Regions from separate parts of the Homo sapiens genome. Here region 2 is linked to region 1. The links come from fine-mapping of genetic effects on gene expression. A gene starts in region 1. The other region holds a variant in brackets. All regions are shown on one strand. Distances are from middle to middle. Region 1 holds the start of TFAP2E-AS1 (TFAP2E antisense RNA 1). Region 2 overlaps ZMYM4 (zinc finger MYM-type containing 4).

Region 1 (8,329 bases):
AGCTGAGATAGCGCCACTGCACTCCAGCCTGGGCGACAGAGTGAGACTGGTCTCAAAAAAAAAAGAAAGAAAGAAAGAAAGAAAATGATGATAAACTGGACTTCATCAAAGTCTAAAACTTTTGCACCTCAAAAGATATTATTAAGAAAATAGCATGGTATGGTAGCATGAGAATGTAGTCCCAGTTACTCGAGAGGCTCAGGCAGGGGGATCACTTGAGTTCAGGAGTTCGAGGGTGCAGTGTGCTATGATCTTGCCTGTAAATAGCCACCAAACTCCAGCTTGAACAACTTAGTGAGACCTATCTCTAAAAAGTTTTTTAATTAAAAAAAAAAAAGAGAGCAGTTGCTCACTCCTGTAACCCTAGCACTTAGGGAGGCCAAGACAGGAGGATCACTGGAAGCCAGGAGTTTGAGACCAGCCTGGGCAACATAGCGGGACCCTGTTTCTATGAAAAAAAAAAAAAAGATAATTTTTAAAAATGCAAAAAAAAAATTAAAATTTTAAAAATAGAAAAGAAAACGATAAACCACAAACTGGAAGAAAATATTTTCAAATCATATATCTGATAAAGGACTGTATTCAGAATATATTATATAAAGAACTATTATAACTCAACAATAAGATAGCAACCTAAATAGAAAATGGTCCAAATATGTAAATAGACATTTCACTAAAAATGAGAGATGAATGGTTAAATAAGTACATGAAAAAGTTCTTAACATTATTAGTCATTAGGGAAATGCAAATTAAAACTATACTGAGATACCACTTGATGGTTATAATAAAAAAGACAGGGGCCAGGCACGGTGGCTCATGCCTGTAATCCCAGCAATTTGGGAGGCTGAGGTGGATGGATCATGAGATCAGGAGTTCGAGACCAGCCAGCCTGTCCAACGTGGTGAAACCCCGTCTCAACTAAAAATACAAAAATTAGCTGGGTGTGGTGGTGCGTGCCTATAATCCTAGCTACTGGGGAGGCTGAGGCAGGAGAATTGCTTGAACCCAGGAGGCAGAAGTTGCAGTGAGCCGAGATTGTGCCACTGCACTCCAGCCTGGGTGACAGAGAGACAATCCATCTCAAAACAATAAATAAATAAAAAAGGCCAGGCATGGTGGCTCATACCTGTAAGCCCAGCATTTTGGGAGGCCAAGGCGGGTGGATCACCTGAGGTCGGGAGTTCAGGACCAGCCTGACTAACATGGAGAAACCCCGTCTCTACTAAAAAAACAAAATTAGCCGGACGTGGTGTCACGCACCTGTAATCCCAGCTACTCAGGAGGCTGAGGCAGGAGAATCACTTGAACCCAGGAGGCAGAGGTTACGGTGAGCCGAGATCACCTCATTGCACTCCAGCCTGGGCAACAAGAGTGAAACTCCATCTCAAAAAAAAAAAAAGAAAAAAAAGACAATTCTAAGTGTAGGATGTGGAAAAGTGGAACCCTCACACATTGCTGGTGAGAATGCAAAATAATACAGCCACTTTAGAAAATAGCTTGACAGTTTCTTAAAAATTAAACCTAAACCGACCATATAATCCAGCAATTGCACTCCTAGGAGTTTACTCAAAAGCGCTAAAAATATATTTCTATAGTAAGGCATGTATGTGAATGTTCATAGCAACATTATTTAAGACAGCTAAAAAGTGGAAACAACCCAAGTGCCCGTCAACTGACCAATGGATAAACAAAATATGTTACACCCGTACAATGGCATACTATGAAGCAATAAAAAGAAACAAACTGCTGATAATAGTTTGTTTCTTTTTATTGCTGTTTCTTTTACTTAGCATAATGTTTGGGGCGAGCCTCAAAAATATTATGCTAAGCAAAAGACGCTTGATGCAAAAGTCTGCATATTTATATATTCTATTTATAGAACATGTCCAGAATATGCAAATTTATGGACAGAAAGCAGATCAGTGGTGGCCTAAGGCTTGGGGTGAGAATGGAGAGTAGCTACAAATGGGAACTTCTGGGGATGGCAGAAATGCCTCAAAATGGATTTTTTTGTGGTAATGGTTACACAACTCTACATTTACTAAAAATCATCAAATTATATTCTTACAATGTGTAAATTTTAGGTATGTAAATTTTACCTCAAAAAATCGTTAAAAAATGCAAGTTCCAGGGCCATACTTCCAGGGGTTCTCATGCAGTCAATGTGGGGTGGTGCCCAAGAAATTTGCTTTTTTTTTTTTGAGGCAGAGTCTCGCTCTGTCGCCCAGGCTGGGGTGCAGTGGCGCAATCTCAGCTCACTGCAAGCTCCGCCTCCCGGGTTCACGCCATTCTCCTGCCTCAGCCTCCCGAGTAGCTGGGACTACAGGCGCCCGCCACCACGCCCAGCTAATGTTTTTTTTGGTTTGTTTTTGTTTTTTTAGTAGAGATGGGGTTTCACCGTGTTTGCCAGGATGGTCTCGATCTCCTGACCTCGTGATCCACCCGCCTCGGCCTCCCAAAGTGCTGGGATTACAGGTGTGAGCCACTGCACCTGGCCAAAATTTGCATTTTTAACAAGCACCCCCTGGGGGTCCTGATGCATGTGGTTCCTTGGACTACACTTAGGGTACCACTGGTCCAAAGCTTGAAGGGGTTGGAGCAAGAGGAAGGTAGACGGGAGGAGTAGTGACCTGCTCCCTGGCCCACACTGGGGCACAGCATGTGCAAATGCCCTCCCTAGAGTCTCCTCATCTCCCCTGCTGGGACCTGCCGATTAAGTTTCCTTCTCATCAACTGCCAGAGGGTTTCTTTCTTTCTTTTTTTTTAAGATGGAGTTTTGCTCTTGTTGCCCAGGCTGGAGTGCAATGGCACAATCTTGGCTCACTGCAACCTCCGCCTCCCGGGTTCAAGCGATTTTCCTGTCTCAGCCTCCGGAGTAGCTGGGACTACAGGCGTGCACCACCATGCCTGGCTAATTTTTTTTGTATTTTTAGTAGAGATGACATTTCACCATGTTGGTCAGGCTGGTCTCAATCTCCTGACCTCAGGTAATCCACCTGCCTCGGCCTCCCAAAGTGCTGGGATTACAGGCATAAGCCACTGCGCCCGGCCCAGGGTTTCTTTTACATATAATTTCTATCCTTCACTCCCCTGCTCCAAGGTTTTCCATAGCTCCCACCATTTTCAGGTAAAGTCCAAACTCCATCTGCACATTTTTTAAGTTGCTTTCTGGGGCAGAGAGTAGCCTGGGAGGCAGGTGAGAAAGGGTTGTGGAAGTGCAAGTTCAGTAAATTTTTGATATTTTGTTTATCGTGGATTTTTGCACTATTTTCATTTAAAAAGGCCAAGCGTGGTGGCTCACGCCTGTAATCCCAGCACTTTGGGTGGCTGAAGCGGGCAGGTCACTTGAGGTCAGGAGTTCAAGACCAGCCTGGCCAACATGGTGAAACCACGCCCCTACTAAAAATACAAAAATTAGCTGGGCGTGGTGACAGGTACCTGTAATCCCAGCTACTTGGGAGGCTGAGGTACGAGAATCTGAGAGGCAGAGGTTGCAGTGAGCTGAGATCGTGGTGCTGCACCCCAACCTGGGCGAGAGAGTAAAACTGTGTCTCGAAAAAAAAGATTTTTTTTTTTTTTGAGACAGAGTTTTGCTGTTGTTGTCCAGGCTGGAGTGCAATGGTGTGATCTTGGTTCACTGCAACCTCCGCCCCGCAGGTTCAAGGGATTCTCCTGCCTCAGCCTCCGGAGTAGCTGGGATTACAGGTGCCTGCCACCCCACCCAGCTAATTTTTGTATTTTTAGTAGAAACGGGGTTTCACCATATTGGCCAGGCTGGTCTCGAACTCCAGACCTCAGGTGATCCACCCGCCTCGGCCTCCCAAAGTGCTGGGATCACATGGTGTGAGCCACCGCCGCCCGGCCTCTTTTTTTTTTTTTTTTTTTTTTTTTTTTTTGAGATAGTCTCCCTCTGTTGTCCAGGCTGGAGTACAGTGGCATGATCTCGGCTCACTGCAACCTCTGCCTCCTGGGTCAAGCAATTCTCTTGCCTCAGCCTCCTGAGTGGCTGGGATTACAGGCTAGCGCCACCACACTGGGCTAATTTTTGTATTTTTAGTAGAGATGGGGTTTCACCATCTTGGCCAGGCTGGTCTCGAACTCTTGACCTCAAGTGATCCGGCCTCCCAAAGTGCTGGGATTACAGACGTGAGCCACTGCGCCCGGCCTATTTATCTTGATTACTGAGTTTTTTGGCACCCTCTCAAATTCTGTCCCAGAAGTCAGTATCTCACTCATCTCACCCATGTCCTGGCTGCTTAGAGATTGTCTGGGAAGTGGAGACCCTCCCCAGCTCCCTCCTCCTTCTCCAGGGCCAAAGACAGCAAGGAATAGGGCGACTGTTTACATCAGCTCCTGTCCTAGAGATCCCCTGAGATTGGACAGCTGAGCCCGTGGAGAGGGATTCCCCACCCCCAAGTAGGCAACCACCCACTCTCCTCCAGAGGGAACGAGGGATCCATCTCAGTTCTCATCCTTGACCACTCCCCTCCAGCTCTGATTGTATAACCTGAAACCCACACACGGTTTGTAACTTTTTTTTTTTTTTTCCGAGACGGAGTCTCGCTCTGTTTCCAGGCTGGAGTGCAGTGGCGCGATCTTGGCTCACTGCAATCTCCGCCTCCCGGGTTCAAGCGATTCCCCTGGCTCAGCCTCCCTAGTAGCTGGGACTACAGACGCGCACCACCATGCCCGGCTAATTTGTTTGTAACCTTTTTAACCTGTCTGGCTTTTCCACAGGGAGAGGATTTGCATATGCTGTGTCCTGTGTGATGAAAGGAGCCCTTTTTACACACCCCCTCTTTCAATGCACTCAGACTTCAAAGCCCATCACTCATTCATTCAACAAACACCCACTAAGCACCTCTTGAACCCGGTTCAACTATCTCCCCTCTAGGCACTCACCCAACCTCGGGCACTCTCCGCGCCTCCTCTGAGCTCCTCCCGCGTCCCATACAGCCCCTGCTCACTGCTGGAAAATATTCCTGTTAAGCTCCGTCTCCCCACCAGTCCTGCTTGCTTTCTGTGTGTCTGGGATAGGTTGCAAAACTGGAGGTGACAAATGTGGGCAGGAAATGGAGGGCTCCCTTATACTCCTAGGGTCGGCCTCAGCCCTGCCATTTCCTGCCCAATACCGCGGATGCAACTGGCATGGGACCCGGAAGTGTGTGGTAAAGCGCCGGGGCTTCGCCTGGCCGCCCCTCCCGGACGCTTGCCTGCAGTCAGCGAAGCTTTTCCAACCCAGGTCTGGGCCCTGCGAGCTCCAGGTGCCTCTGCCCCGCGGCGCTGGCGAAGTCGAAGCCCGAGAACGCCCACCGCAGCGATGCGAAGGCCGCTTCTGGGGTGGGGCTGAGGCTGCAGCTGCCTCCCTTTCGCACCAAGGACCCCAACCTTCAGCGACGCAGCCGCCGCTCCCGCCCAGGCTGGGAGGCACTGTAGGGATCCGACGCTTCAGGTGGCCAAAGAGCGACTTTCTCTGATTCCAGGGCCCTGGCGGGGCAGGCTCCAGTACCGCACTCGGCGGAGGCCGAAGGTCTGTGGGGCAGGACAGGAGTTCCTCGTGCCGTCGGAAGGGCCGAGGACGAAGGAGGGCGCTAATTCACTCCCCACTGGGCTGGCGGCAACGCCGAATCCCGCAGTGACCGCGGAGGGCCAAGGTGAAAACTGCTGGGGGCGCCGAGGGCAGGTGTGGGGAGGGGCGGCTCCAGGGAGCAAGGAGCCCACCTGCCTCGCCGCCGCAGCTGCCCTGGGTCGACCGCCCACGCTTTCCCCTGGGTCACGACCTCCGGATCCAACTGTGCCCGGCTCCTGCCCCTTCCCCTTTGCTGCTGCTGCGCGGGCTGTAACTTGACGTCTAGGCTGGGGCGTCCAGGGCGCAGTCTCCGCTCAGGTCGCCAGCGCTCCACTCGCTCCACTGGGCCACAGACCCGCTGGCGCTGGGGTCCCGCTGGCGCTGGGGTCCCGCTGGCGCTGGGGTCCCGCTGGCGCTGGGGTCCCGCTGGCGCTGGGGTCCCGCTGGCGCTGGGGTCCCGCTGGCGCTGGGGTCCCGCGGTTGTGCACGTGAGTCCGCGTGGCCCCGTCCCGCGCGGTTGTGCACGTGAGTCCGCGCGGCCGCGTCCCGCCCCGCTCCAGGGAGCCAGCGCGCCGCCACCTGGGATGTTAGGACTCTCGTTGTGTTCTTTGGACTGCTTTGGGGGATTTCGGCGTACCCCTAGGATCTAGGAGTTTTGGAAGTTGTTTGAGAGAAACCAGCTCTGGGAGGGCCTCGCATCCAGTCTCCTGTCTCGGCTTCGGACCGGGGTTCCGGGTTAAGGTGCTCAGAGGAACAGCTGATCCTTCTACCCTTGCGCAGGGCAGAGATCCCCAAACCTCTTTCTAAAATGCAGGGTCTTAGTCTTTCTCAGGGAGTCAGTGAACCTAGACTCCCAGTCTCTTGAGCCCAAGCATGAATAGGGAACTGGGGACCACCACCATGCTCATATTTCTGGTGGCCAGGAAGTCCAGGCAGGCTTTTGCCCACTGCAGACGGATCTCTTTCTTCAGGGGTCAAGAAAGGCTCTGTACAGTAAGCCAACCAAGCCCCACCAGCAGAGCTGCGCTGCAACCAGGTTCCTAGTGTCTTTCCCACACTCCCAGTTCCAAGCGACACAGGACACAGCCCCAATTCCACCTCCCCCCACCCACTTCCTGCCCTGTTGCCTCATCTTCCCTGCTACACACTCCAAGTCATCCACCCAACCCCCAGCTCCTGGTAACTCAGCCCCAGCTCCTGGAAGTCCAGCCCCAGCCCTGCTACCACCACTTCCACCTTGGCCTCCCCTGAGAACAAGTGGAGGGCAAATAGAGCCCAGGCTTGAATTCACTCGTTTGAAAAACAACTCAAGCCAAACCCTGTGGGAGCAGTGCCTGCCTGGGGCACCTCAGGCTCATGTGCACCTCTGAATTCTTTCGGGCACCTGCCCCAAATGTAAAGAGGCTGCTACCCAATGCCTGGGCCCCTCTGACTCTCTGCTCCTCTCTGGCTGTCTCTCTGTTTTTGTCGTCTCTCACCTTCCCCTGTCATGGCCAGTACTTGGTCCTCAGGCCAGAAAAGGTGGATCCCGTGTCCCTGGATTTTACTAATGCCAGGAGTCACATAAATACTCCTATATATACACAGAGAGGGCCCGCGCATGCTTGGAAATCCTCAGATACCAAAGAACAAAGTGCAGGACACAACAGAGATACTGTACATATTGAGAAATGTGTACATCCCCCAAATGCAGAGAAATGCACACCAACATACAGAGACACACCTCACAAACACATTCACAGAAACAGACACACTCACACTCCAAGAAATACTAAGACACCCATGAAGGGAACATTTCAGACATGCACAGGACCCTGAACTCACATGGACACAGACACCCAGGAGCAGGTGGGCCCTGACTCAGGTGCACACAGCCTAACACACAGTACTCACACACAAGCTCCCCTAAGTCTAAATGCCGCAAGAGACTCCCACAGAAAGAAAATTCCCCCAGAGGCCTCCAAGGCCCTGCCTGGAAGGAAGAGGAAGAAAGTGCCCGCCAGGCACCGAAATGCTAAGGCACTGTAAAGTGAAAATCATTTCCCCAACTCCGTGGGAACAGCACTTCCATTCCCATCTCTTAGGGAAACAGGGAAGTGGTTTAACTCGTTCTGCAAATCAACTCCAGATCCACAAGAGTGCCCTCCCCCTCGGCGGGGAGAGGCCAGGCTCCCAGTGCTGCAGCCCAGTGAATGCTGATCCGCTGAGGCCCACCCCAGGCCACAGGGTGCTGGGCAAACTCACCAAGCCCGCACGTCTGCCTAACATCTGGCTGGGCCAGGAAGAGTGCCTGGTGGACACCCAGCCTGGCGACACACAGGAGGCACGGCCGGTGAAGAAAATGGATCTGTGCACCAAGGGCCTGCACCATCTCGCCGGGCTCTGCCCTGACAGACCATTCCTTACCTTTCTTGATCACGGACTGGTCTAGGAGGCTCATTCCCGGCTCGTCCATTGCCTGCAAATAGCAGAGGGCAGCGGTGAGGGCGCATAAAGCCCTAGCCGCCCATGTCTTCCCAAGCCCCTGCCACCCAGGGTCTCTGTCTGCTCCGCCCAAGGCGCACCAGCTTCGCTTGGGGCGGCGACGGGCAGGCCCAGGAATCGCTATGTCCAGGCACTGAGCTGGAGCCCTGGGCATCTCACTGTGCAGTGCAAAAAGGGAATTTTGAATCTTACACTGGTAACTATTATGCTTCTCTTCGCCCCAGGTGCAGGCTGCCCCATGGATGCCACACGTGGCAGCGGGGAGAAAAGAAGTGA
Region 2 (8,329 bases), 260 kb after region 1:
TTTCTTGTATGCATGTATAGCTCACATTTATTTCAATGTTTAATATTAGAAGTGTTTCAGATCTTTATTTAGAAGTTTGATGGTGTTTTTGTGACTAAAAATATGCCACAGGAACTTAACTCTTACTTCTATCAATTTAAACTTATGGTAAAATTGGTTTCATTATATGTCATTTCACCTAAAGTCACAATTTCCAAGAACATATCAACAACATTTAGTGAGGACTTATTATACAGCCATACAATAAAATACTGAGTAGCCATTAAAAAGGGTGCAACAGGTCTATATCCATTGACACAGAAAGATGTCTACGCAGTTGAATGAAAAAAAGCAAGAACAGTATCTATGATTCCTACACACATATATAAATCTCCATACACCATGTATAGCTATATACACTCATAGAAAAAAGTCTGGAAAGATATATATGTTAAACTTTTAAAACTGGTTATCTTTGGAGAATGGTAATGACAAAGACTTTTACTTTCTATTTTATTCATTTCTGTATTGTAAAATTGAATGTATTACTTTTATAATCATAAAAAACAAATTATTTCTAAAAATACGATAACACAAAAAGAATTTTAAAAGAAAATAAAAGACCTTAACCCAAGTAGAAACCCTTAATAGTGGTAAGTATAATCTTCCATATAGACACGAAGTATGGCTATATTTTAATATGATAACTATGAGAATAAAATATTTATTGAAAAAAAGAATAAGATTCTTACAATTCAGATTAACCTGCTGAAAGAACAGTACGTGATGAGATCTAGACTAAATCAGATTGAACCATCACATAAATCAGCCCTAACTAAACACTGTAATAGTTAAATACCACATCTAGATTAACATTCATTTTCTATCTAAAGACATGATTGTTTTTTCTCAAATGGTACTTACAGTTCTCTACAATTTCATCAAAAACTGCACCACTTTTTTGTTCAAACTGGAAAAGCAAAAAAGGAAAAAGTAACATTACCATCATATCTTCTATCATACATTCTTTTGGTATCCCTCCCTATTCCCCAAGGAGCTGTAATTTTCAACCCAAATGACAAGTGCACAATATAAACAAAAACATTGCCAAATAGAGTAAAATAAAATTTAGGATGAACCAAAGTAGTTCTCAGACCAAAGCCCCAAACCAAAAACTAAGAGATAAATCACATCCTCTCACTATAAACAACTACTTATTTTTTTAATCATTCATGTCACAAAAGAGATGATCATATATATTTTAATAACAGTAAACACAGCTAACGCTTCATAAGAACTTACTAACACCGAGAACTATGTAAAACTTCCCATCAAAACTGAACAGAAAAATTAACAGCTTTTGCTCTTAAGCTAAAGCCAAAAACATGCTGCTCTTAAATTGAAAGTGAGGCCTGTTATAGGGATGGTTCCTACTGAGTACGTTAGTGCCTAAGACAGAAGTAGAGCCATGTCAGAGGTAATTTCAGATCTTTAAACACAGAGGGAAAAGAAAGCAAAGCACCGGTAACTCCACCAAAGAACTAAAGAAAATGGCACACTTCACTCTGAGTCTCTGAAGGCCTCCTTACTTTGGAGGTTCCTGCTTCCCTGCCTGTTACTCATCAGTGAGGCAAGAACACAAGAAATGCTGCTTCTTGATAAACCTTGCCTACTGTAAGAAGCCAGAATCAGCCACCCCATTCAAGGGAGAGACTTTTAAGGAAAAAAGAACTACCTAGCTACCTACATAACTGTAGAGGAAACACAACAGCTAGCTATAGTAATCAGTAGTATCTGATATTCATAAATATGAAGAGAAAATAAAAGATCCCAGGTTTCCAAAAGAAACCTATGTGAAAGAGAAAGTTCAAGGTAAACAAACAGAACCACCACTCCAGAAGGAAACAAGTAACTTATAAAAAAGCAACTTCTTGGCTGGGCCCAGTGGCTCACACCTGTAATCCCAGCACTTTGGGAGGCTGAGGTGGGCGGATCACAAGGTCAGGAGATCAAGACCATCCTGGCCAACATGGTGAAACCTCATCTCTAGACAAAAAGTTGGAAAAGATAATTTATGTGACATGGAGGATTGAAGCACTAAGTCTAACAGCAATATCAAAGGTACCCCCAAAGAAGAAAATAATGGTGAAAGGGATAACAGAAAAAAATTTCCCTGAACTGAAGATATAAATACCATATCTGAGATTGAATGGGCCCACTAAATACCAAAGAAATAACAAAAAAAAAGGATACATCCTGGTAAAATATATCAGAATTCCAAAAGAAAACAAAAGGAGCAATTTTTTAAATGATAGTGCAGGTAATTTATAAACACATTTAACTTGAAATTCAACTATGTAAACATTGGAAAGTAAAGGAAAGCAAACTAATAGTGAAGGTCACTCCACCTACCATTCCAGTCAATGAGCTAGGCTCTAGAATGAAAGGGAAATGGGAAATGAAAAATGTCACTCTGGGCCAGGTGTGGTGACTCACGCCTGTAATCCCAGCACTTTGGGAGGCCGAGACGGGTGGATCATGAGGTCAGGAAATCGAGACCATCCTGGCTAATTATGGTGAAACCCCGTCTCTACTAAAAATACAAAAAAATTAGCCGGACATGGTGGTGGGCGCCTGTAGTCCCCGCTACTCAGGAGGCTGAGGCAGGAGAATGAGGAGAATGGCATGAACCTGGGAGACAGAGCTTGCAGTGAGCTGAGATCGTGCCACTGCACTCCAGCCTGGGCGACAGAGCGAGACTCTGTCTCAAAAAAAAAACACCAAAAAAACAAAAAACAAAAAACGAAGAAAAATGTCACTCTGTAAGCCAAAGAATGAAAGCATCTGCCTACACTGAGAAGAATCCCATTGTTTAATAACAGTTTGTTTTTGAACAATACTGTCCCAAGGCCCGATGCTATTATTCCTTCTCATCTTATACAATATTTCTCATGACTCTCTATCCCCCTAGAGCTACTGCTCATTTTTCTCTTCCCCTTGACAGCAGAACTCTTCAAAGGAGTTGTCCAGCCGGGTGCAGTGGCTCACGCCTGTAATCCCAGCACTCTGGGAGGCCAAGGTGGGCAGATCACCTGAAGTCAGGAGTTCAAGACCAGCCTGGCCAACATGGCAAAAACCCATCCCTACTGAAAATACAAAAATTAGCTGGGCGTGGTGGCGGGCACCTGTAATCCCAGCTACTTGGGAGGCTGCGAGGCAGGAGAATCACTTGAACTCAGGAGGTGGAGGTTGCAGTGAGCCGAGATTGTGCCACTGCACTCCAGCCTAGGGGACAAAGCATGATTCCGTCTCAAAAACAAAAACAAAAACAAAACAAAAAAGCCAGGCGTGGTGACTCACGCCTGTAATCCTAGCACTTTGGGAGGCCGAGGCAGGTGGATCACAAGGTCAGGAGTTCAAGACCAGCCTGGCCAACATGGTGAAACCCCATCTCTATTAAAGATACAAAAAAATTAGCCGGGCATGGTGGCACACACCTGTAATCCCAGCTACTTGGGAGGCTGAGGCAGGAGAATCGCTTGAACCTGGGAAGCGGAGGTTACAGTGAGCCGAGATCACGCCATTGCACTCCAGCCTGGGCAACAGGGCAAGACTACATCTAAAAACCAAAACCAAAACAAAAAAAAAGTTGTCTATACATGCTGCCTACGACACCTGTCTCTTGAACCCACTTCAGTAAGGCTTCTGCCTGCACTATTTCTACTGAAACTTTTCTCGTCAAGGTCATAAGCGACCTCCACACTGCTAAACCCAATGATCTATTCTCACTCCTAAAGGAAAAAAGAGAACTAGAAGATGACAACCATTTAAGGTGAAAAAATTTGGATCACAATCACTACTTCACATCAACATTAATCCCAGATAAGTTAAAAATAAACTGAAAAAAAAATAAAAGCCCTAGAAGATAGAAAAGTCTTTTAACCAGAAAAAGAGATCTTCATGAAAAAGATTTTAAAGTTTGACTATATTTCTAAAAAATTGTTTGGAAAAGCTTAAAGGTAATATGAATGAAAAAGTTGTAGTAGTAGTATAATAATGGTTAATATTCTATGTATAAAGCAATCTTGGACTCAATTAAAGAGTACTATCCCAATAGAAAGTGATCAAAGAACATAAACAAGCACTAAACATTCAATCTTACCCAAAATCAAAATTGAGATACCATTTTCTCTCAGACTGGTAAAGATACAAAATGAAGAGAGACATAGAAATGTCCCTGTTTTTAAAAAACCCAATAGTATATCTTGGAAAATTATACAGAGATCTACTTCATTCTTTCCAGTGGCTGCACAGTCTCTTATTATATTATACTGATGAACATTTTAAGGTTGCCTCCTGCTTTTTTTTTTTTAAATGCAATATTGCAGTTGTCATCTGTATACATATGATATGGCTTAGGTATGTGAGTATATCTGTAGGATCAATTTCTAGAAGTGGGATCACTAGGTTAAAAAAGATCACTAGGTTAAAAAAATTAAATATTTAATTTTTTAAAATTTAATTCCTTCCAACTAAGCTTCATGAGTTACTGGGATTATAGGAACACACCACCATGCCCAGTTTATGACACTTTTTTTCCAAGTACTTTATATGATTTAATCCAATTTAATCTCCCAAAAATCTCATAAGGTAGGTACTGTTAACACCTCTATTTTATAGGTGAAGAAATGGAGGTACTGAGAGGTTAAGGGGAAGGACACACACACACACACACACA[CAG/G]CTCTGAAAGTCTCCCAAGAAAAATGTCCAAACTTCTGTGGATATATAAGACTCTCCAAAATCTAGCCCTAATTTCCTCTACAGCTTTATCTTTTCCTGCCTTCACATTCCCATTACATCCCCATCCTGTAAGCAAATGCTCCAGCCATGATAAATAACCTATAGCTGCTCACCCAACCTTTCAGGTAGTTTCAAGCATCTGGGTCACTGTGCACAGTGCTTAAGCTTTTCCAGTCTTAATTCAATAGTAAACATATACTCAGCTTCAAGCTAAAGCTGCTACTCCTCTATGGTACCATAATCTCACACACAACCCACACACACCCAACTTCCCGAACAAAGTAGAATTCACAGCTCTTTCCTAGTGATACTACGACCAATGTGACTGTGTAACAACTATAATAACTTTACTCCCAAGTTGGGAATGCTATAAAGAATCAAGTACCCATACAGGTTTCTGAAGCTGTATGAGGTCATATCCCATTCTTTTTGTAGACCAACCTGCTGACAGATAACAGGGGTTATACAAACCTTGAGTTTTAATCCAACTTTGGAGACTAAACACAAAATCAATAAAAAGGAGCGCTTTATATAAAGACCTTTAGAATAATGTTAAAAATTAAAAACAAAAAACAATCTAGTTAGTTTCTTTCAATAGAACCTAAATGAAATCAAGATTCTATAAAGGATTAGAAATCCTACACTTCTCAAAGCCAGGGCAGGCAAAAGTGCACCCTGAAGAAAAAAACAAACAAAAGATTATTTTTCTGCTATAACAGTCTCGCAACACAGAACATTTCAGTGACCAGATATGTGGGACTTTTTCATCACACACCAAATATCTAGCAGACACCAACTGTGTGTCCTATAATTCACTTCAATTCTGACACTATCTACCTAGAATTAAGAGTAAGATCCCACAGGTTGAAGGCTCAGTCCAACAAGGCTGCCTCCCACTTCAGATACCAATCACAAGCCCCAGGCTGTGACTTGACCTTGTAACTGGCCAGCTATATAACTTGGGGTGTGCGCAACCCCCACCTCAGGTTCAATTAATTTGCTAAAGCAGCTCATGGATCTCAGGGGAACACATTTACTGGTTTATTATAAAGGATACTACAAAGGATACAGGTGAACAACCTGATGAAAGAGATGCATAGGATGATACATGCTGGGGAGAGGCATGGAGTTCCCACGTCTTCTCTGGGCATGCCACCTTTCCAGCACCTCTGTGTGGTTCAGCAATCCGGAAGTTTTCTGAACCTTGCCTTTGGGGTTTTTATGGAGGCTTCATTATGCAGCCATGATTGAGTAAATCATTGGCACTGCTGCTCAACTCGATGTTTAGCCCTCTAGTCATGTCTTGGTATTTTTGGTGACCAGCCCCATGCTGAAGCTATGGAAAGGCCTGGCCCTAAGCCCAAGTCACTCATTAGTACACAATCCACACTTATCACTTCAGAGATTCCAACAGTTTTAGGAGCTGTGTGCCAGGAACCTGGGGCAGAAACCAAATATGTATTTCCTATTATATCACAGTATCACACTAGCCCAAAGATATTTTTATTTGTTCTGTATTTAGTAGCCTAGCACCTACAACACTGCGTAAAATATAACAAAAACTCAGTCTTTGCTAAATAAAAGAATCATTTCTATTAGTTAATAAGCAGTTTGAAACTTGTTTATTTAAAAAACTTAACCATAGAGTGTACTTTAAATTTTCCAAAACTCCCAAAGTTTCCACTGAAGTTTCAAATAATTTGTATACTTTCAACAGACCACTCCAAATCAAATGTCCAATCCTATTCCTATTCCTTCAACCGCCACAATGAGTAATGTTAGTCTTTCCCTGTTGCTACTCTGATTTGGATGTCCCTTAGTTTTTCAAATGTATTAATCCTGATGATTTTTACAATCATTTTTTTCAAGTTTCTCAATGTGAGAAATTTGTTTTGGAAAAATTTTTTTGAGACGGGTCTTGCTCTGTTGCCCAGGCTGGAATGCAGTAACATGATCATGGCTCACTGCAGCCTCAAACTCCTGAGCTCAAGGGATCCTCCCACCTCAACTCCCAAGTAGCTGGAACTAGAGGTGTGCACAACCACGCCCAGCTAATTTTTTAAAATTTTCTGTAGAGACTGGGTATTGCTATATTGCCCAGGCTGGTCTTGAACTCCTGGCCTCGTGATCTTCCCACCTCAGCCTCCCAAAGTGCTGGGAATGCAAGCATGAGCCACCACACCCAGCGATATTATATTTTTTATACAGGCAGCTACCACGCAGAAATATAAAAACGACTATGCAAGCTGAAACCATGCAAAGCAATCTTAATGATCAAAGAGAAAAATTAAAATTGTTCCATGATCTTTTTTTGTCAAAACACTTGAAACGTTAAAAACTCTGTCAGTTTGGCCAGGCACGGTGGCTCACACCTGTAATCCCAGCATTTTGGGAGGCCGAGGCGGGCTGATCACCTGAGGTCGGGAGTTCGAGACCAGCCTGACCAACATAGAGAAACCCTGTCTCTACTGAAAATACAAAATTAGCTGGCCATCATGGCCCATGCCTGTAATCCCAGCTACTCACGAGGCAGGAGAATCACTTGAACCCGGGAGGCGGAGGTTGTGGTGAGCCAACATCATGCCACTGCACTCCACCCTGGGCAACAAGAGCGAAACTCCGTCTCAAAAACAAAAACAAAAACACTGTGTCAGTTTAAATGTGTAGGGAAATGAAAAAATATTGTATAACTAATATTTGCTTACTACGTTATAATTTAAAATGTGAGAATCAAAGGGTTTTATTTATTTGTAAAAAATCTACCAGGAGTATGGCTGGGCACAGTGGTACATGCCTGTAATCCCAGCACTTTGGTATGCCAAGGCAGGCGGATGACTTGAGGTCAGGAGTTCAAGACCAGCCAGGCCAAGATGGTAAAACCCTGTCTCTACTAAAAATACAAAAATTAGCCAGGTGTGGTGGCACATGCCTGTAATCCCAGCTATTTGGGAGGCTGAGGCAGAAGAATCACTTGAACCTGGGAGACGGAGGTTGCAGTGAGCCGAGATTATGCCACTGTACTCCAGCCTGGGTGACAGAGCGAGACTTCGCCTCAAATTAAAAAACAAAAAAACAAAAAACCCTACCAGGAGTAGACAGTGCCTGCCTTTGTCTTTTCCTATGTAACTTGTGATACAGAATAAGCAACTTTTCCATGCCTTAACAAACTGTCAGCCGGGCACAGTGGCTCACCCCTATAATCCCAGCATTTTGGGAGGCCAAGGTGGGTGGATCACCTGAGGTCAAGAGTTCAAGACTAGCCTGGCCAACATGGTGAAACCCTGTCTCTACTAAAAATACAAAAATTGCCAGGCATGGTGGCACGTGCCTGTAGTCACAGCTACTCGGGAGGGTGAGGCAGGAGAATCACTTGAACCCGGGAGGCAGAGGTTGCAGTGAGCCAAGGTTGCGCAACTGTACTCCAGTCTGGGTGATAGAGTGAGACTCTGTCTCAAAAAAAAAAAAAAAAAAAAAACTGCCATAATCCCTTCTAAATTTGAATTGGCTTCCAAAATTATACCCTTTGCTCTTTGAATCTTTTGAGTATCTC

What was found. PIP is the estimated chance that this variant, and not a neighbour inherited with it, causes the effect.
Region 2: its variant is the best candidate, but not a certain one, in a credible set for the expression of TFAP2E-AS1 in whole blood (INTERVAL, PIP 0.79).

The regions. Positions count from the first base shown.
Region 1 is chr1:35,574,647-35,582,975 of GRCh38, reverse strand. TFAP2E-AS1 (TFAP2E antisense RNA 1) reads left to right here and starts at 5,114. Exons shown (of 3, transcript NR_183387.1): 1 at 5,114-6,310; 2 at 8,278-8,329. It overlaps TFAP2E (transcription factor AP-2 epsilon), which reads right to left. Exons shown (of 7, transcript NM_178548.4): 3 at 7,976-8,027. RefSeq lists enhancers at 5,036-5,205, 5,216-5,285, 5,466-5,555, 4,808-5,660, 5,661-6,513 and 1 more.
Region 2 is chr1:35,317,980-35,326,308 of GRCh38, reverse strand. ZMYM4 (zinc finger MYM-type containing 4) reads right to left here. Exons shown (of 30, transcript NM_005095.3): 2 at 904-949. Among named protein-coding and RNA genes, the nearest start is that of ZMYM4-AS1, 44 kb to the left of the region's middle. The variant CAG/G (reference allele first, on the strand shown) is at 4,718.